Linked DNA regions of Homo sapiens: regions 1 and 3 are each reported to be linked to region 2. Evidence: microRNA targets listed by miRTarBase, many of them from high-throughput screens and not tested one by one. Region 2 holds a microRNA gene; each other region holds the end of a gene's coding sequence.

Region 1 (3,321 bases), not on the chromosome of region 2:
CTTCCTGAGCAGAGCTCTGACTGGTATTCCTTCAAGCTATGTGGCATGGTGTCAGCAGCCCAGGGTCCTTGAGTCCCACTTAGGTCCATGCACCTCAAGCCCTCTAAGACAAGTTGCTGGTTTCTATTTGCACGCTTCTCTCATCTCCTTTCCATCCCACCCTAACTCCAATGTCAAGAGGCCTTGGTTCAGCCAGGCGAGGTGGCTCACCTGTAATCCCAGCACTTTGCGAGGCCAAGGCAGGAGGCTCTTTTGAGTCCAGGAGTTCAAGAACAGTCTGGGCAACAAAGTTGAGACCCCGCTTCTACAAATGCCTCTACCCCCACCAAAGACTAGCATGGAGGCAGGCCTGTGTTCCCAGCCATACTGGAGGCTGAGGAAGGAGGACCGCTTGACCCCAGGAGGTTGAGGCTACAGTGAGCCGTGTTTGCATCACTGCACTCCAGCCTGGGCAACAGAGTGAGACCCTGTCAAAAAAAAAGGCCTTGGCACCAGCTCTGCCTTCAGCTAGCAAGGCATGTCACCTTTCTGGGCCTGTTTCCATTACCCAGTCTCTGCTTGAGCGGCTTCTGGGATGGGGAGTACACTTCTGTGCCAGCCAGCCAGTTTGCTATGGGGCATCCCCTCCTCCTTGTAACCTTCACTCCCTGTCACGTGCCCAGTTATTCCCTGGAGCCAAACAAAATTGCTACCACAGTGTACTCTCCAGCCCAAAGAAGTTTTAACCCAGGAACATGGGAAGTAAATGAATTTCATGATCCAGTGGAGACTCAGAGACACACACACACACACACACACACACACACTCACACTCTATTAGTGTCCTGGCCCTCTGGGTGTCCCAGAGACTAATGCTATAAAGACTCTGTAAATACTTACCAGACACTTACTATAGGCAAAGTGCATCACGATCATATTTTATTTCCTCATACAACTCTACTCTTATCACCCCCACATTACAGATAAGAGAGGTCACTCAGTGAGCCTTGGCAGTCTTGCTCTGGAGCCTGTACCCTAACCACTGTGCTCCACTCCCCCTGAGCTCCTGCAGCCTGCCCTGCCCTGCCCCAGCAGGTGGGGTCAGGTCTTTGACTCCTGTCTTTCCCCCACCAGCCCTTCTGTGACGGCTCCCACTTCTTCCAACGCACTGGCCTATCTCCACTCAAGTTCAAGGCCCAAGAGACCCGCATGGTGGCACTCTGTACCTGCAAGGCCACTCAGAGGCCCCCGTACTGCGATGGCACCCACAGGAGTGAGCGCGTGCAGAAGGCAGAAGTGGGCTCCCCACTCTGAGGGGGCTGCTGCTGTCCAGCCACAGGTGGCCTTGGCTCCAGGCCTCTGACAGGCACCCCCTTCTGTGGGAAAGGAAACAGGTGCTGAGCCCAAGAGACTCTGGTACCCACTGCTGGCTCATGAAGGAAGAATTATTCCTTATAACCTAAAAGTCTCCAGTCTGGGGCAGGCGGGAGTGGGCCCTGGTTCAATGTTTGCTGATGGGGAAGATGGCAAAAACAAGCCTGCCCAACCAGACTGGTAGTCCTGCAGTCACTGCTATGAGGCCCACGTGCTGCCTCCTGCTCCAGATTTTAACCTCTCTGTGGGCTGGGGGCACCTGACCAGCCACAGGAGAGGGCAGTTCAGATTCATTCTGTATGGGGTCCCCAAGCCAGGCTAAACCCAGAGATGAGAGGCACCCTTCCCTTCTTCCCTCCACCCCAAAGAACTACAGGCTCCAGAAAGTATGCAGCATTTATTACAAAGCCAAGAGATACAGATGTCCCAGGGCAAAGGAGGGTACAGTCACAGGACCTCAGACACAGGACAAGGTGCAAACACAGACAAGCCCATCAGGGGGCTCCCAACCCCACACACCTACGCTATGATGGAATCTCGAGTCTCGACTCCCGACTCCTCTCAGATCTATGCACACTTGAGGAAATCTCGGTGGGCAGCGACCTGCCAGGGTCTGTCCCTAAGGAGGTGGTCCGCTGACCTCTCAAGGGGTGGGGGTGGGGTCAGAGCTTACAGGTTTCTGTCTTCTTGTGCTTTTAGATGCAGTTGCTCTGTCCTGACCAGGTGACCGGGCCTCAGCTGGGGGTGGAGGGGCAATTGGAAGGCTGTTTGCCTCTGGCAAAGTCTGGGATCTGTGCTTGTGTGAGGTTAACCCACCCCCACTTCCACTCTAGGCCCCAGGTGAGACTCCACCACCAGTCCTGCTAGTGAGGGTTCCCCGGTGAGGGTAAGGTTGGTGGGGGTGCAGCGCTTCACAATGCTAAAGCCTTAGCCCTCCTCCAAGAGCTGAGACCTCTCAGGGCCTGAATCTTCTTTTCCACAAGATAAATGATGCAAAGGCCACACACACAGGAAAAAAAAAAAAAGAGGCAGAACTATCTATTCTTTGCACAAAGTTTCCACTGCAAGAGGAGGAGGTGATGCAGGTGCCACCTCCACCCTGCACTTGCTCCTCAGAACCAGGGATAAACTGCATTTGTAAAAGGCACTGTTCTTAGCAATTTCTGGACATTCAACAACGTGGGGGGCGGCCACTGGTCAGAGGCAGGACAGCAGCCAAGATGGGGAGAGAAACGGGGAGAGAAAGAAACGATTCTAACTGACTCCTATATGCAGCCAGTTGGAATCATGCCTAAAGCTTTGGGTCTGAAGGGGCCCCCAACACACCACCTGCCTTGGGAAACAGCGAGGATGGTGCAGAGCTTTATTGAGACTCCAGTGGCCCATCCAGTTCATCTCCAGGCACCCCCAAAAACAGCAAATTACACAAGACCCCCCCCAAAAAAAATGAACACCATTTTCCACACATACACACACACATAAAGTTTGTTTCCTGTGGCATTTAAATTAATCTGGTTGGTCCATAGAAAATAAGTATGTATATTTGGTTTTTCCTATGTACATATATATATATATTTATTTATAAAACCCGCCCCCCACCCCCAAGGTGGGAAGAGCTGGGGAAAGTAGAAGAGGTGGAAAAAAGGGCCCAGAAAAAGTGGAAGGAGTGGAGAGGCTTGGCTGGAAGAAGGGAGAGGGTCCCTGGCCTCAAGTTAAGGGGGGCACGGGAGCGCCGTTGACAGTCATCTTGCGCCCCCTGCTGGTGGAGGATGGTGTCTGCAGGCAGTTCAAGCTACCCCCGTTGGCAGCTGTGGTGGCCCCACTGGCTGTCGAAGGGGGAGTGGGGGAGGTAGGGTGGGTGGCTGGAGGCCCATGGGAACTGGGAGAGCCATGGGATGGGGTGGCTGGGCTGGGCAGGGAGGAGGAGGTGGCTGGCAGGGTGGCAGGGCTGGGAGCCTTGTCGCTGAC
Region 2 (3,348 bases):
CAGTATAAAGTCGGTTACATTCATTTTCAAATGAGAAAACTGAGGCCAAGAGGCTGAAATCATATCCAAGGTCAAACAGCCAGGAGCAGCTGGAATGCAGGCCTAAGCAGTCTGACTCGAAACCTTGCTGCTAAACGCTAACCCAGAAAACGTCAGCTTCTAACTCATCTCTCCATTGGAGTCTCAAAACCCATGGAAGAGAGAAGGGGTTTCTGCTGCCATCAGCTGCTACATCTTCTCCGTGGCCCCAAACCTCCCTTTCTTCTTCCAGTAACAAACAAAAGCTCCCATTCAAATGAATAGAGACAAGTAGATACTGCCCTGCAGGGGCCACCTACAACCAGCCAGAACTACCCTTCTGTCTCTGATTACATGCACTCTGAATGTCCTCCCAAGGCCAAGATGCCACCAATTCTGTCCAACAAGGAAGGCCACTGTATTTTCACCAGGGCTACAAGGATTCATTGCCCCATTATTCTTCAAGTCACTATCATCCCAAATTAGACACTACTGATGTCTAAAAGTTCCTTTGAAATTCATCCAAAATTAAGATGAGTTGATGACTAGAGAGATGGATAAAAGATTTGTGATAGGCCAGGCGCAGTGGCTCACGCCTGTAATTCCAGCACTTCGGGAGGCCGAGGCAGGTGGATCACCTGAAGTCAGGGGTTCGAAACCAGACTGACCAACATGGTGAAACCCCGTCTCTACTAAAAATACAAAAATTAGCCGGGCGTGGTGGCGTGTGCCTGTAATCCCAGCTACTCGGGAGGCTGAGGCAGGAGAATCGCTCAAACCCGGGAGGTGGAGGTGGCAGTGAGCTGAGATCGCGCTACGGCACTCCGGTCTGGGCAACAGAGTGAGACTCCGTCTCAAAAAAAAAAAAAAGCAGGCCGGTCGCGGTAGCTCACGCCTGTAATCCCAACACTCTGGGAGGCCGAGGGGGACGGATCACGAGGTCAGGAAATCAAGACCATCCTGGCTAACACGGTGAAACTCCATCTCTACTAAAAATACAAAAAATTAGCCGGGCGTGGTGGCGGGCGCCTGTAGTCCCAGCTACTCGGGAGGCTGAGGCAGGAGAATGGCGTGAACCTGGGAGGCGGAGCTTGCAGTGAGCCGAGATCACACCATTGCACTCCAGCCTGGGCGACAGACCGAGACTCCGTCTCAAAAAAAAAAATCATTGTTAAAAAAACAACAACAACAAGGATCTCTAATAAAGCAACTGCAGTAACATATTAATGGTAATATTTAGGTGAAGTATACGGGTGTCCACTGTACAATTATTTCAGCATTTCTGTATGTTTGAACATTTTCAAAATAAAGTATTGGGAGGAAGTTACAAAGAAACAAGGATACTTTGAGACAAGAGAGAAGATGAACAGACTTCGTCAACCCTCTTGGTTTGTTTAGGGCACACTTATGCAATTCTCTAGGGGTCTCTGCTTCTCTTTGCATTTTTAGAAGAAGACACAAATTTAGCCTGTGATTCATAAACTCCAACATGGCGAAGAATCATCTGTGAGATTAATTAAAAAGGAAGATTCTTGGAGATCTAGCCCCAAAGATTCTGAATGTAGATGGGGCTTGGGAATATACTTTCGTAACAAGCTCTTCATGTGAATCTGGGAAGAAATCCATCCACATAGAGAAACACTGTTTTATAATGTGATAAAAGTGAAAGCCATTGTGTAGTAGACAGTAGACGTGCCATATTTTCTTTGCTCTGATTGATTTGGGGGTGCCTGGGATTTAGAGACTAATATTTCACCCAGGTAAAGAAATGGGCATCCCTTACATTTTCTTCATAAATTGAAAGACCAAATAAAAATGTTAGTGCTTCATGAGCAAATACTTGTATAGGAAACTCTTTTGATGGGCATATTCACACAGAAAACTGTCACCCTCATTAATGAATAAAACAACTTGCAATAGTCAAATGGTGGGACTCACTATGTTGAAATGAGAAATCTTACGTATGGTGAAAAAAATACGACAAAAAGAAGAAAGGAAGATACACTAAATTTAGGTTTTAAAGAATATTCACTGTTCTCCTTTAAAATTAGATATTTAATTTTTTAAAAAAAGAAAGAAAAACATTCACAAGAAGAGAGAGCGATTGGGGAACATAATTTGATGGGACTTCAGCCATTCAAAAAATAATGTGGTAGTGTTGGAGGCTGTTGCAAGACCTTGGTTCTTGTCTTCTTAGTTTAAAAGAATTTAAACAAGAGACATACAGCAAAAGAGATGCAGCATAATTTATTGCAAAAGAAAAAAAAATTTTGAAAGCTAAGTACAAAATAGACATCACACCCTGAGAGAGAGAGAGAATTCAGGGCAGGCTGCTCGTAAGGATGAGACAACATTGATTATTGCTGGAGGTTATTGCTAATCATGTATTATTTGCATGATTATTCATAAGGAGGTGGGAAGAAGTGTTACCGTTAGGTTCGTGCAAGAGTAATCGCGGTTTTGGCCATTACTTTAAATGCAAAAACCACAATTACTTTTGCACCAACCTAGTAGTAAGCATCTTCTGGTTGGTCCTCTGGCTGCACATGTGCAGTAGCTGTGCACCCATGTTCCTCCCTCAGGTGTCCCATTAGCATTGTAAATCTCCACCCAAGGGCATGTTTTTTGCTATTATAATGAGCAAAAGGTCAGTTTGAGGACAGGTAAAATCAAAGTGCTCATGCTCTCTATAGAAGAAATTTCCTACTGAAGATAGCTTTGCTCGACTGAGTTCAATCACAATTCAAATGCTGAGGCTTATTGTGTTGACTGTTGGGGTCACCATGGTTGCTGCGTCCTGAGGATATGGGCACTTCCTTGACTGCCTATCCTGCCTCAGTACTACTTTTTCAGTTCAGAGTTTAATTTTTTTCAGCAGTTCCTGCTAAACAATTTTTCACTGGCCCTCTTATCGGTATTAGCACAGTTAGGCAATACTGTGGATACAAAGTTAGATTATAGACGCTATCCTACAATGATACCACAGTAATGTCCACAAAGAACTATGTTACAAAATAGAAAGAGATATGTGTTATAGAAGAGATACAAATTAAATATGTTGCTAATTCGGAGCAGAGAGAAATAACTTTCAGTTTAAAGGATCACTACAGTGGAGCTTCAAGATGGGGTTAAACTATACTTCGGTTTGGACATGCAGATACAGGGCAGAAAGTATTCAGGCAGTAGGGTGGTATGAAGGAAGGCAAAGAAAGTGTGCATAGGCACAGTGAATGAAGGGAGCAGGAAAGGACAGAGTAGTTAAGGAATATAAGCTCGAGATCAAATTTTGGAAGGCTTTGAAAATCAAGCTAAGGAACTGGGCCTTTCCAT
Region 3 (3,000 bases), not on the chromosome of region 2:
AGCAATTTAGGACGAGGTTCAGGTTGATTAATGGTATATTTGTTTCTTAAATATTAGAGTCTATTTACCCATGTCAAAGCGTCAAGAATACCTGCGGAGTTCCGGGGAGCAAGTACTGGCCAGTTTCCCAGTGCAAGCCACGATTGACTTCTACGACGATGAGTCTACTGAGTCTGCTTCCGAAGCTGAAGAGCCAGAGGAAGGACCCCCACCCCTCCATCTTCTGCCCCAGGAGGTGGGAGGTCGGCAGGAAAATGGCCCAGGGGGAAAGGGCAGAGACCAGGGCATCAACCAAGGGCAGCGATCCTCAGGAGGGGGTGACCACTGGGGGGAGGGTCCGCTCCCTCAAGGTGTCTCCTCAAGGGGTGGCAAGTGCTCCTCATCCAAATGAATCAGTCTCTGTCTCCTGGGCCCTGCTCTGGGACCTGCCCCTCACGTTCTCTTGGGGACACCCGAGCCAGGACACTACGCATCCCTGCTGAGTGTGCAGAGGCTAGAGGCTTCTCGGGCAGCCCCTGGCCTGCACACTACTCATGACAGAAAGTCAGCTTTTACTTTTCTTTCCCCTGGCAATTCGTTTTTGGTGCACTCATGCATGCCTTTGAGAAAGGATTCTAGGAGAAAGAGAAGGTCTATGTCAACAGAGTTGTTATCTCATAGAGCCAGTTTTCAAAGCTCCTTCTGCATTGTCACTCACTGATCAGGTGATGAATTCTTCCTAGATAGTCGCCCACTCCACCTCCTACTTAACCTGAGACTCATTATTTAGCTATTTCTGCTTTTGTAAAAATAATTCAGATATTAAACTCCAATTTTAATCTATCATCCAAGGGTAGATGTAGTTGCTTAGTAGCATTTTGGAAAAAAAAGAAAAAAAGGTTTGGTTTGGTTTTGTGACGGAGTTTTGCTCTTGTCTCCCAGGCTGGAGTGCAGTGACACAATCTCGGCTCACTGCAACCTCCACTTCTTGGGTTCAAGTGATTCTCCTGTCTCAGCCTCCCAAGTAGCTGGGATTACAGGCATGAGCTACCACGCCTGGCTAATTTTTTGTATTTTTAGTAGAGACTCGGTTTCACCATGTTGGTCAGGCTGGCTTTGAACTCCTGACCTCAGGTGATCCACCCGCCTTGGCCTCCCAAAGTGCTGGGATTACAGGCGTGAGCCACTGAGCCCGGCCAAAAAAAAATGTATTTATTAAAAAAAAATTTTTTTAACCCGCCGAATAATTCCCATAAGAGTAACAAAAAGGACCAGCCTGACCAACGTGGAGAAACTCTGTCTCTACTAAAAATACAAAATTAGCCAGGCGTGATGGCTCATGCCTGTAATCCCAGCTACTCGGGAGGCTGAGGCAGGAGAATGGCTAGAACCCGGGAGGCGGAGGTTGCCGTGAGTCGAGATCGCACCATTGCATTCCAGCCTGGGCAACAAGAGCGAAACTCCGTCTCAAAAAAAAAAAAAAAAAAAAAGAAAGAAAAGAGTAACAGAAAGATAGGGATTTTTAGGAGACAATTAGATAAAAATGTATGTGATGACTGTATAAGGAGGCCTGTGTGTATGAATTTATAGGGAGTAGAACCGTCTCTCTTCTTAGTTGGTGACTGTTTGGGGCCTGGTATTTTAATAGATGAACACTACTTTTTTAATTTTTTATTTTTTTAACCCTACCCTTAACCCATGAACACTATTTTTAATTAAAGTATCTGATGTAAAATTATTTTGAGTTTTTAATATTTTGATAAACGTGTATTCCTGAAACTTTTTGACTTACTTATCTTACATGTGGTGTCTTCCTGTATATAGTACATTATATCAATTTCTACTTGAAATAAATATTTTGAAAGAATGTTTGATAATCACCCTTTTTTGCTTAAGACATTTTTAGAATTAAATAGTTTCTGCTTTAAGGTTTTTTCATTTTTCATGGTTTTTAAAAATAATTCTTTTAAAATTATAACCTATTATTTTATTTCAGTATTCTGTTTTATTTTTTAAAATTTTAGACACAGGGTCTTGCTCCGTCCCTGGCTGGAGTGCAGTGGCTCAATAATAGCTCACTGCAGCCTTGAACTCCTGGGCTCAAGGAATCCTCCCACCTCAGCCTTCGCAGTAGGTAGGACAACAGGCGTGAGCCACCATGCCCAGCAATGTTTTTTGAGACGGAGTTTCGCTCTTGTCACCCAGGCTGGAGTGCAATGGCACAATCTCGGCTCACTGCAACCTCTGCCTCACAGGTTCAGTCGATTCTCCTACCTTGGCCTCCTGAGTAGCTGGGATTACCGGCACGTGCCACCAAGCCTGGCTAATTTTGTATTTTTAGTAGAGATGGGGTTTTACCATGTTGGCCAGGCTGGTCTCAAACTCCTGACCTCAGGTGATCCACCCACCTCGGCCTCCCAAGGTGCTGGGATTACAGGCATGAACCACCATGCCCAGCCACCCAGTTAATTAAAAAAAATTTTTTTTTTGTAGATACAGGTTCTCAATACATTGCCAAGGCTGCTCTTGAACTCCTGGCCTCAAGCTATCGTCTTACCTAGGCCTCCTAAAGCACTGGAACTACAGGAATGAGCCACCATACTAGGCCCAATATATTAAAAAGTAGGAGTAATGAATGGAAATACTTTCAGCAATCCAAACACTATAGAAAGTACACATTGCAAAGTAAAATCACATTCTGCTCTTCCCCCTTTCCTTTGTCTAAAGATAACAAACATCAATTGTGTTTTATGGCTTCAGTCTTTTGAAAAATTCCTTTTTTGTGTGTTTTTCTTTTCTGGGCCTTTTTTTCTTTTAAAATGTTTACTTTTTTGTGTTTTGAACAAATTTGGCTACTTTTTCATTTAAAAATTAAAAATTATATTTTATTGTTTCTTTTACTTGTTTAAAGTACATCTTTTCAGACTTAAAAACAATTAAACCTGGGTCAATTTCAGAAAGGATTTAAGATGACCCCGAATTTTGCTGGCTTTTCACAGAAAAATGCTAGAAGTCTTATCC

Evidence for each region. Region 2 holds the annotated microRNA hsa-miR-548ay-3p (CAAAACCGCGAUUACUCUUGCA, at 2,460-2,481, opposite strand). A microRNA usually pairs through its seed, bases 2 to 8, with sites in the 3' UTR of a target mRNA and lowers its output. Matches are read on the target gene's strand: a 7mer-m8 pairs with bases 2 to 8, a 7mer-A1 pairs with bases 2 to 7 and ends in A, and an 8mer does both.
Region 1: the mRNA of PCGF2 is a reported target of hsa-miR-548ay-3p. Seed matches in the 3' UTR shown: 7mer-A1 at 2,936-2,942.
Region 3: miRTarBase lists RIPPLY3 as a target of hsa-miR-548ay-3p. The part of its 3' UTR that is shown has no 7-base or 8-base seed match.

What each region holds. Positions count from the first base shown.
Region 1 is chr17:38,732,163-38,735,483 of GRCh38, forward strand. It overlaps PCGF2 (polycomb group ring finger 2), which reads right to left. Exons shown (of 11, transcript NM_007144.3): 11 at 1,736-3,321. The coding sequence ends at 3,061. CISD3 (CDGSH iron sulfur domain 3) reads left to right here. Exons shown (of 4, transcript NM_001136498.2): 4 at 1,114-3,321. The coding sequence ends at 1,293. Among named protein-coding and RNA genes, the nearest start is that of CISD3, 3.5 kb to the left of the region's middle. RefSeq lists an enhancer at 2,761-3,288.
Region 2 is chr3:32,503,846-32,507,193 of GRCh38, forward strand. MIR548AY (microRNA 548ay) reads right to left here and starts at 2,544; the gene lies at 2,438-2,544.
Region 3 is chr21:37,017,817-37,020,816 of GRCh38, forward strand. It overlaps RIPPLY3 (ripply transcriptional repressor 3), which reads left to right. Exons shown (of 4, transcript NM_018962.3): 4 at 58-1,846. The coding sequence ends at 391. Among named protein-coding and RNA genes, the nearest start is that of RIPPLY3, 13 kb to the left of the region's middle.